Regions from separate parts of the Homo sapiens genome. Here region 2 is linked to region 1. The links come from fine-mapping of genetic effects on gene expression. A gene starts in region 1. The other region holds a variant in brackets. All regions are shown on one strand. Distances are between the middles of the regions.

Region 1 (5,377 bases):
GGCAAAGCCAGGTCCCAAGAACCTGGACCCCTGTCTACCAGGATGGCGACTGTGTTGAACTGGGAAGTGCTTGTCCTGACTAAAGGTGTTCAAATCCTTTTTTTTTTTTTTAACCAATGCTTCAAAATATACCAGTAGGGTTTGTGGGAGTGGGGAACACAGAAGAAACAAGATTGGCCATGAGTCGGTAATTGTTGAAGCTAGGTATTAGATAATGGGGATATTAATACTATACTGTGTAAATATGTATACGTTTTAAAATTTCCACAAAACTTTTAAAAAATTAACGTGCTGTCAAAAAAAATTAGGTACTCAAGCCATATTAGGTCCACAAGCCACTGATTAGCAAACTCTATTCTGGACACTCCTGAATATCCTGCTGGCCATGTCTATACTTCTTTCCAATTCTCTCTGCATAGCGTGGGATGCGGGAGATAGGAGAGGGAGGAAGGGAGATAACTGGCTTAGGCAGGGCTTGGAAGTTGGCCATCCATTCCCGAGAGCATAGACTCTTGGGATTTGGATGGCTGTCATACAAATGGATACAGGTGACACCCCTGCCCCTGCCCATACTCCACACTCCTTCCAGTCTGTCTATCCCCACAGACACTCTACCCATCATCCCTGTACCTCACTGTACTTTGCTCACCTTATTATTTTTTGAGACAGGGTCTTGCTCTGTGACCCAGGCTGGAGGGCACTGGCGTAATCATAGCTCATTACAGCCTTGGTCTCCTGGCCTCAAATAATCCTCTCACCTCAGTCTCCTAAGTAGCTGGGACTTCAGGTACACACCACCACACCCAGCTAATTTTTAAATTATTTGTACAAACAGGGTCCCCCCATATGGCCCAGGCTGGTCTCGAACTCCTGGGCTCCATTAATCTTCTGCCTTCGTCTCCCATAGTGCTGGGATTACAGACATGAGTCTCCGTGCCCAGCCAGTCTTTTTTGCCCTCTATCATCTACCACCCACCATACCAAGGGAAACAAGCAAATCTGGCGTCTGATGTTCCCGGCCTGCAGAAGACGCCATATCCCATCTGGATGAGAAATGAAGCACATGAGCAGCCTGGCAGAGCCACAGTTAATGTGAACCTGGAGAGGAACCGTGCTGTCTTCCAGCAAGACCTCACCAGCAGGGCGTGAAGCCATGAGATCTGGGGTGGAAGGGGGTTGGAGAAAGGTCTGGGTTTTATTTTTCCTTCTCCTTTTCTTAGGCTAATTACCATTCATCGCAATCCCTTTCCTAAACCCTAATATCTTCCCAGTTTATAAAGTGCTCTCACATTTACAATATTTAATCTTCCCAACCCTGTGAGGTCAATATTATCCATATTTTGTAAATGAGGAAACTGAAGGTCCTCATGATCAAGTGATTCACCTAAGACCATAGCTTGTGGGTGGCTGAGCCCAGGGCTGCAGACCCTAATTTTAATGTTCTCTCCTCTACCCCATATTGCGGAGGGCAGGCAGGCAGTCCCCTGTCATGGGGCTCTGCAGCTCTCCATGGAACCAATAATGGAGAAGAAAATTGCGTTGCATTTTCTAAGTAGTCAGCTGGGATGGCAGGAATTTATTTATTTTATTTACTTATTTATTTTTTGAGACAGAGTCACGCTCTTGTTGCCCAGGCTGGAGTGCAGTGGCACGATCTTGGCTCACTGCAAGCTTTGCCTCCCAGGTTCAAGCAATTCTCCTGCCTCAGCCTCCCTAGTAGCTGGGACTACAGATGCCCGCCACCACACCCAGCTAATTTTTTTGTATTTTTAGTACAGACAGGGTTTCACCATGTTGGCCAGGTTGGCCTCAAACTCCTGACCTCAGGTGATCCGCCTGCCTCTGCCTCCCACAGTACTGGGATTACAGGCGTGAGCCACTGTGCCTGGCCATGGCAGGAAATTTTGATGGGCATCTACTTACCTGCAAGTGTGTTGTGCTTTCTTAATTGAGGGGCATTGTTAGAGGATTGTTAGAGGTAGTGGTGTTACTTGACTGGGTCTTCTGGGGTGTTGATGTGCACAGGGGAAATTTGGATTTCCCATCACTTTGTGTGATGACCACACAGCCCCTAAATCTCACCTAAGTGTGATATGGAGAAGCTGAAAGAAGCCACTACATTGTCCACATGAGCTAGGAACAGTGACTTTAGGTCTTACATTAAATCTTAATTCTGCCTTAACTTTGCTGTGCAACTCAGGCCAGACTTCTCCCTCTCTGGTTCTCAGAACAGCCCTGGCAGCCAAACCGAAGTTATCTCCTATGCCAGCCTGAGACTCCACTCCCTTTGCAACCTCCTGGAGAAGATAACTTAGGGAAAGACTGTCACTGCTCAGAGGAAGCATCCCAAACCCCTCACTGGTTTAGGAATTTAACACTACCGAGCAACGGCCCCAGAAGGCAAGGCGATTGTTAGGAGGAATTAAACAGGCTAGTGCTGGACCCAGCCATCCAGTCCTGGCTTACACAGAGGTTGCTTTTCATGCCTTTTCACTCTGTTAATTTGGCTTGTTTTCCAAACATGGGTCAAACAACCCCTCTCCAGAAGCGGCAGCAGCAGAAGGAAATGTTATTAAAAATGAGTCTGTTAGTGGGAATGGTGTGTGGATGAAGTCTTTGGGAGTTTTGGCTGCCAAATAAAGACTTTATTGTCATTCCTCCTTTCCCAAGCTCCCTCCCTCTCTCCTCCCCTCCCCTCCCTCCCTCCTCCCTCCTCTCCTCCCCTCCCTCCCTATGATCTGCCCCTCCCTCCCCCCAAGCTAACCTCCCCACCCCAATAGGATCTGGTGGAAGAAAAGTCAGGCAAACACAAGCACGCACACACCACTGGGAGATCAGATCTTCTAGCTGGCTCTCTGCTGCCACAGCTCCGCCGAAGGGAGGGGGTGGAAGAGGAGGACTAAACTCAGAGCTGAGAGGAGAGGCAGGTGTGTGCAGGTAAGCCCAGTTGGGAGATGGGCAGGAGACTGGGAAGAATCTTTCATCCAGTAAGTTTCCTCCAGCTCTGTCCATTTATTGATCTAGTCTCTATCCTCTCACTCCTTCCTTCCTCCCACCTCTTTCTCCTCTCAAATGAGTTCAAATTTAGTCTTCCTAACTTCTTTCCTATAGCCTCTTCCTTTTCTTTTCATCACTCTGTACCCCTATATTTGCTTACTGCAAAAGTTAAGCTTTCCTGCTGCAGATGTTTGTTGTAGCACAGAGAGCCACGCTGCACAAAGTGTTTCTACAGATCAGGTGTTTCCATAGAAACTGGACTCCAGAACCCATTTCTTTGCACCTTTTGTGTATTGTCACACATTGTGGAAGTCACACACATCACACGGAGGCTGCACGTTCACTACCATCACCCCACACGACCATACAAAATGAAGACATCCTGTCCATTCACCTCTGCCCTCTGCATCTGACATGCAGAGCTAGACCACATCATCACCAGACACCAGCAGACACACACACACATGCATGCACACATGTTCCCTGCATCTTGTCTCTCGCCCTCTCACACACACCTCCCTAGCTGTAAGAGCAAAGATAAAGTACGTTTTCCCACTGAGATGGCAGAGCCAGAAGAAAATCTTGCATCCCAAGTCCAGGCCGAATAGGGAGGAGATAAGCAAGAGCGGGAGCTGGAAGGGTTTCTTCATTATTTAGGGCTTCACTGGGTAGGAGGGAGAGAAAAACGGCTTTTTCCAACCTGCACAGTGTCTTCTCAGCAGCTTTCAATTTCTGTCTCACTGGTCCAAACCACTTGGCTTTTGGAAAGAAAGAAGAAAGCGACCCAGTTCCCAATCCTTGAAGGTCCTAATTCCCAGCTCTGGGGACAGTTCATTTTTTTATTTTTTTTTCCTGCAGGCAGCCAGAAAAATATTTTTCTTTAAAGCCGTTCTGAAATTATTCCAACCATTTAGGTTGGCAAAAGGTCCTGTGGCAGAGGAGAAAAAAAAAAAAAGGCAGCAGTTCCTTAAGCAGTTGGGGAGGGGAAAACTGAAGGGCGGCCCCTCTCCTGCTCCCCTGCTCATTCCTCTCTATTAATAGAGAGGGTCTGTCCCAAGGCAGGCGGGGTGTAGGGAGATCAGGGGTCCCACACACAGCTGATCTTCACAGTCACCTAAGGGCTGGAGAGGGAGGAGTGTGGAGGGCTTACTAAAAATACAGATGTCGGCTCTCACTGCAGATCTACTGAATCGAGACCCAGGAATCTTGTTTTAATACTTCAGGAGATTCTGATGGTCCACCAGGGCTCGAGAATCAGGGGCCTGAGAGAGAGCTTTGCTGTAATTTTTAAGCCCAAGACTCCGGCAGTGTTAGCTGGGCAGAAGGACTGTGTCCTGGAAAAGGAGCACCAGAGTGTCCCAAATAGGCCACCTCTTTTTTGGGGAGTGGGAGTAAACAGGGAAGAGCTGTCTCCCTCTCTCCTCCTTGCAAGCACAAGCAGCCATATATACCACAGAGGAACATTCCAGTAAGAAAGTTCCCCCAAGATGGCTCCACAGAGCTTCTGTTTCCCCTCACCTGTTAATCTGCCTGCCCCAGGACCCCAGGAGCATGTGCTGGGCCCTTCCCCTGACCCTTATAGGTCCCTGCTCCTCCTTCCCAGCAGCCACCTGTCTGGGCTCTCACAGAGGGTGAGCTGAACACTTTCTTCATGCCCCCTCCACCTCCCTAGTGGGCAATCCCATTTATTGGGCATGTGAGTGAAGCATTTCAAGGCTGGAAGGGGCAAAAAGCTGGGAGAAGTCAAGAATCGCAGTGGAACTCCATGGCCCACTGAGGAAGGCAGACTTGCACCTTCTGTGGCCAGTGTCCCCTCACCTGTTGCAGAAAGCATCGGTGAGAAGTTGGTGAATTAGAAAGACAGAACAAGCTTTCCCTAGGTGGCTGGGGACTTCCAGAGTCTCCTCAGTTAGTTGTTTCTGAGACCCAAGTGTGATCTCACAAGCCACAAAGGGGAGGAAGTTGCTCTGTGTGGAAGAGCTGGTACCCCACTCACAAGGATCCCTGCCTTCGAGCAGTGCATGGGGGCTGCCCTCTAGCCAGGCTGGAGGGAAGGAGACCCCATTACTTTGAAATAATATCAACAAGACCTTAACATTCAGAAAACACTCACTTTGCATGTATTAACTCATTTAACCCTCAAAACAGAAAAGAAGGTGTTAGTATCCCCATTTTATAGAGCAGAAAAGCAATTGCTTTGCCTAAGCCTACCTAGCTAAGCATCTGAATGAAGAACTGCAGGATTGGGTCTCAGATCTATAATCACTCAAGGCATCAGACACACTCTTCTAGGCTTTCTTCAAGGCTTGGAGATGCTGGGGGAATGGGGCAGAGGATATGGTAGGTGGCGGGCTGTCAGAGAAGAGTCGTCTCACCCTGG
Region 2 (5,377 bases), 73 kb before region 1:
TTTTTTAAATTAACTGTAGGTTTTAGGGAAACATTTATTATACAGTACTACCAAAATAAAAGTGGATCCCTAAGAACAGCTCAAATACCCAGTGAAGTATTAAGAGGTTAACTATAATTTGTTTTCAGTCATATTCAGAAAATTTAATGTGTTTACTTGCTTGTTGAGTCTTTACAAGTTTAATCTTTTTGGCTTTGGTGATTAACTTTTAGTACCTCTTTCTTTTCCCTAGCTGATTAAGTTTGGCCTACCTATCAACAAAAATCTGCCAGTATCTTTGTGATCACCAGAAAAGCCCTTGAGTTTCCAGCGGTATTTCTTTTTAATTTCTGTAAGTGCACTTATTATTGCTTGAGATCCTCAGGAGTTTTGAATCTAGCCTGGCATTCTGTATCTCTTTCTAGCAAATCAACATAAACAACTCCTGAGATTGCTCCAAAGTATTGCATACAAAAGCACTTACAACTTTAAAAATGGGTAAAAATCAACCAGGCATGGTGGCTCACACCTGTAATCCCAGCACTTTGGGAGGCCGAGGTGGGTGATCACTTGAGGTCAGAAGTTTGAGACCAGCCTGGGAAACATGGTGAAACCCCATCTCTACTAAAATACAAAAGTTAGCTGGGCGAGGTGGCGCACACCTGTAGTCCCAGCTACTCAGGAGGCTGAGGCAGGAGAATCACTTGAACCTGGGAGGCAGAGGTTGCGGTGAGCTGAGATCACACCACTGCACTCCAGCCTGGGTGAGAGAGCAAGACTTGGTCTCAAAAAAAAAAAAAGGGTAAAAATCGTTGTGTGTGTGTGTTTGTTGTGTTTTGTTTTGTTATAGTCACACCTGTGTATCAAACACTTCCCCTGGGGCATTTCAGTCCTTGCCCTCTAGCAGGGCACAGTGTGATGGAGGAGGGTTCAGAGAGCTCCCAGCCAGATGGGATGTGCTTGAGCGTGTATGTGTGTGCATAGAAATAAAGATCATCAAAAAGACAACAAACGTAAAAAAGCAATACAGGAACACATTTAGTGAGCACATGCTACGGGGATGCTGGAGAGAAGAGGCCAACTCAGGGACGGAAGGCAGGGACACCCTCTCTGGCTCTGGAGCACTGGGACTGACAGTTGCGACATCCATAATTCATAGCCCATCAATCTTGGAGGGTCCTGTGCTCTGACCCTTTTAAAAATGACCCTCTTCTCTGATAGCTGAGCCCTCCTTGGAGGCCCAGGGCAGAAAGGTTTCTCTGCAAGACATCCTCTGGTGCCCAGCATGATGGATGAGGAGGCCAGAGCTGCTCAGGGCAGCTGAGGCCAGTGGGGCTGAGTGGGGAGATAAATATAGCAGCAAATCCAGCTCTGTGTATAGAGAGTGCGGAAGGCCAAAGGGCAGTGCCCTGGGTAGCATTGAACATGTAAGAGGTGACTTAACAAGCGCAGCTCGTGAAGGAAACAGGGAAGGAGCAGTCAGAGAAAGGTGGAGAAAACAAGCAGTGTAATGCATCATGGAAGCCAAAAGGGAAGACAGCTTCACCAGGACAGCGGAGACGCCAGCGGTGCCTGCAGAGTCCTCCAGAGAGGCCCCTGCCATGGAGGGTGGAAACGTGCCTCGTGAATTTGATCAGTAAGAGGTCCTTGGGGAGCCTGGGGAGAGCAGTATCAATGAAAGGTGGAGGCAAAAACCAGGTTTCCATGGGCTGAGCAACAAATAGAAAGTGAAGAAGGGATACTAGGAGTCAGATTGTCAGATTTAGCAAATAAAAATACAGGATGTTCACTTAAATTTCAATTTATCTGACATTTGAATTTCAGATAAACAATGAATAAATTTTTAGTATAATAAGTATGTCCCAAATATTGCATGGGACATACATAAACTGAAATAATTATTTGTCATTTATCTGAAATTAAAGTTCAAGTGGGCATCATGTATTTTATGTGGCGGTTCTAACAGGTTAGCGTGTGGACTTCTCTCCCAAACAACTTGTCTGGGAAGAAGAGCTGATTGCTAGAGCCATAGCTAGAAAGGGACCCCAGTCAATGGAAAGTTGTATTTAGGATGGGATCATCTAAGCGTGTAGCCCAGGCAGCACTTTCTGTAGCCTGTTTGTAGGCCGAAGAGAAAGAAGGAGAGGCTAAAGACACAGTTGGGAGAATGCTAGATTATTGAAACCATGGGCCTCTAATCAGGACCAGCAATCATTTCACTGGATCCACCCATAAAAAGCAGAAAGTCCCTCCCCAACACTCCATTCCACTAAAAGCTCAGAAAAATGCAAATTTCCAACATTGATTTGCAAGTGTATTCCCGCTCCTGCAAACTGCAGGATTGTGGATTTCATACAAACTCTATCCAGTAGATTTTTGTTTCTTTTGTTCTTTTGTTCTTTTTCTTGGTGTTTTAATGGACCACCATAGCTGAAAATATTTTGCTAAATAGAGCAATCCACTTTGCCAACTTCAGCATTTCTTAAAATTCTGTCACCAGATAGAACCATTTTTAATAGCTAGATTCCATAACCAGTTCAGGCCTCAAGCCTAGGTCTTTTAAAGCGAATGAATCAGATTAGTGCTGAAATCGAGCTCCTCCTTCCTCTTTTTCTATTTTTACTCTTACTGCTAATGGCGAAGTTATCAAAGCCTCTTTTGATGATGAAATAATTGTATCATTGAATCATCACATGACTGAGTCAACAGCTGTTTTTCTTCCTCATCACACCAGTTTCCA[G/A]GGTCACATCTGGCTTGAGAAACTTGAAGTCTGGTGTCCTTTTGTTTATTTTTGTTCCTTTTCCTCTAATTCCTTAGATTTCTGCCAGATTGGGAGCCTTCATTAGTGTTTTGTTTCTGTGTTCGTGAGACAGAAAGGCAGACAATGGTTTTTTTCCCCTTTCCACAAATGCTAACTTGAAGTCTTGTTTTGTTTTCATTCACTTTTGAGGCAGAGTCCAGCCCACCAAGTCGAATTCTTTGCTCAGTTTTAGGCATGTAGACCCCACAGCAGAAGCAGTGCTGTGGCTTCCGCTGTCCTTCCTAAGAATGTCCCTGGCTGCTAACTGTTTGGATGTTCCCCTCCTTCACTAGGGACTTTGAGACTGTTAATAAGAAAAAAATAACAACATTGGGCTACACCAATTTCCCTTCTCTCAAATTGCTTGTTCTATGTTAGTTTCAAAACAAGAGTTTGCCACCTTGGTTTTAAAGAGAGCACTAATGGACTGCCCCCAGTGCTACCTGTTCTGTTTCTAATCTGCTCCAGGATCCGACAGAATCCATATAAGGTAGAGGACAATTGCTTTGAACAGACATCCTCAAGATAGTTCATAATTTTGCCTTTGGTTTTCTCATTTGTAGCACTCAGGATAGAGCTTGGTCTTCTTTGGTGCCTGAGATTTAGGATTGGGCAGGAGGAGGTTATGTTTGGGATCTGCTTTCAAGTAAAATATCTCTACCAACTAATGAGTAATTTAAGATTCTCTCTCTATATGGTACTTATCCCAAGAGGTAGACAAGTACAGACGGGGTGTAGCTAAAGCTGGGGCCATGGCGGGACAGGAAAGTTTCTTTATGGGTCAAAATACTTGCAGTGTTAAACAGGCATGTTACCAAAACAGGTTCCCTCAGGGTGATGGCTCTTCGTCTGCTAGGCTGACCAGGGGGCCCAGATGGTGTGCCTGATATCTGGGAGGACGTCTCCAAGAATGTGTGACTTAAGTCACCTCACCTGGAGGTTGAAGGCCTTACATTATTTAAGCCAGAAAGGACTTCGAAGACCCTGTAGCCTCAGGGCTCCCAGACTTAATTTCATGGTCTATTACAAGTTGGAAGTAAAATACTGTAAAAAGTAACTGGTTGTCGATAAGTTTTATTTTGCCAGTTGAGCAAATAAAATACTCACCTTCTGTCATCATTTCAGAAAAGTACCTTTTAATGTAAAAAATATGGAAGACTTATTCTCTCACTCTTAACATAAAGGATATATATCCCTGTCCTTCCCCAGAAAGTCAGTATTAAACTTACACTAACAGTACACAAATATACTGTATTATATGTCTGTGTGTATCAATATGCATGCACATCATCATCCTCCTCCTTACTTTTTCCTTATCACATGGGTAGCTGTAATGTAGTGATTTAGTACGTGGACTCTGGGACCAGGATACCTGAGTTCAAATCCAGGCTCTACCACTTACCATATGAAGACCTTCAGGTAAGTTACTTAACCTCTCTGAGCCTTGGTTTTATCATCTATCATGTGAAGGTGTTAATAAGAATACATACTTTTCCAGGTGGTTATGAGATTAAATGAGTTAATATATGAAAACCACTTCACACAAAGGAAATACCCAGTAATTCATAGCCATTGTTATATTATTTTGCCACAGACTAGTGAAATCTTTATAAATTGGTATCTGGGAACCACTGACAAAGCACTCCTTTCCTTTTCCATATAAGGAACAACTTAAGTCTAGAGTGGGCATGATTTGTCCAACTCAGGTCATGGCCAGTCAGTGACTGGCATGGGCATAGAACTCAAGTCTGCTGACCAAGTCCAATGCATCTCTGAGGTTTCCTGGAAAAAAAAAAGTCAGTTAGGCAAATGACTGGAGGGTAGGATGGGAATCAGTGAACATGGGCTGAGTGTGTGCATAGAGAGGGGCGGGGAGCCAGCACTTGAGCAGAGCACACTAACCAGTTTGGGAACCCCAGGGAAGTCTGGCCATTGCTGTCTCCTTTCTCTTTCCTCCAACCTCAGAGAAAATGAATATAGGAGCAGGTGACAGCCTGGGGTTGGGGGTCGAGGGAGTCTGCACGTGGGATGGAGTAGGTCGGTAGCAATGCACTTCTACCTCTTCCTCCTTCAGCCTTCAGTCCACCCATAGAACATACGGCTGAATCTCCAAAGTCCTACCTCTTACGACTCTGCTGGTACAGTCTGTTGGATGGAGGTCCTGCCCCTCCCAGGCACCAATCACCAGAGCAACCAAGGCTGGAAATAATGCTCAACCCTTCCACTCATTTTTGCTGCTGTGGTTTGGGGACCATTCTCCATTTCCTAAGCAGACACAGCCTTGGTGAGGACCATGGGATCAGGTAGGATTGCACTCAGTGGCTGGTAACAGAATCCATGGGACTATGGCTTCTTTTTCACTCCCCATAGCAGGAAATCAGGGTGTCCAGGGCAGGCTCCTTTAGTCCCTCTGTTCCATCATCCTTCACATATGACTTTCATCCTCATGACCACCTCCTGATCACATGTTCCAGGCAGGACGGAGACAAAAGAAAATGACAAAAAGCAAGGGTTGGGTACATATCAGGAAATCCAGACTTTCCCCTAAACCTTCCAGGGGCTCCTGCTACTGGAAGCTACTCCTAGCTGCAAGGGAGC

Alleles and levels. Positions count from the first base shown, and alleles are read on the strand shown. Sizes are in standard deviations (SD) of each study's normalised expression.
As copies of G replace A in region 2, the expression in thyroid of the gene that starts at base 2,805 in region 1 goes down (small effect, 0.12 SD a copy in GTEx).

The links.
Region 2: its variant is fine-mapped to the expression of PRELP in thyroid (GTEx, PIP 0.93).

Annotation. Positions count from the first base shown.
Region 1 is chr1:203,473,002-203,478,378 of GRCh38, forward strand. PRELP (proline and arginine rich end leucine rich repeat protein) reads left to right here and starts at 2,805. Exons shown (of 3, transcript NM_002725.4): 1 at 2,805-2,937.
Region 2 is chr1:203,400,142-203,405,518 of GRCh38, forward strand. BMNCR (bone marrow associated non-coding RNA) reads right to left here. Exons shown (of 3, transcript XR_001738390.3): 3 at 4,592-5,236. It also overlaps the pseudogene LARP7P1. Among named protein-coding and RNA genes, the nearest start is that of BMNCR, 4.8 kb to the right of the region's middle. The variant G/A (reference allele first, on the strand shown) is at 2,720.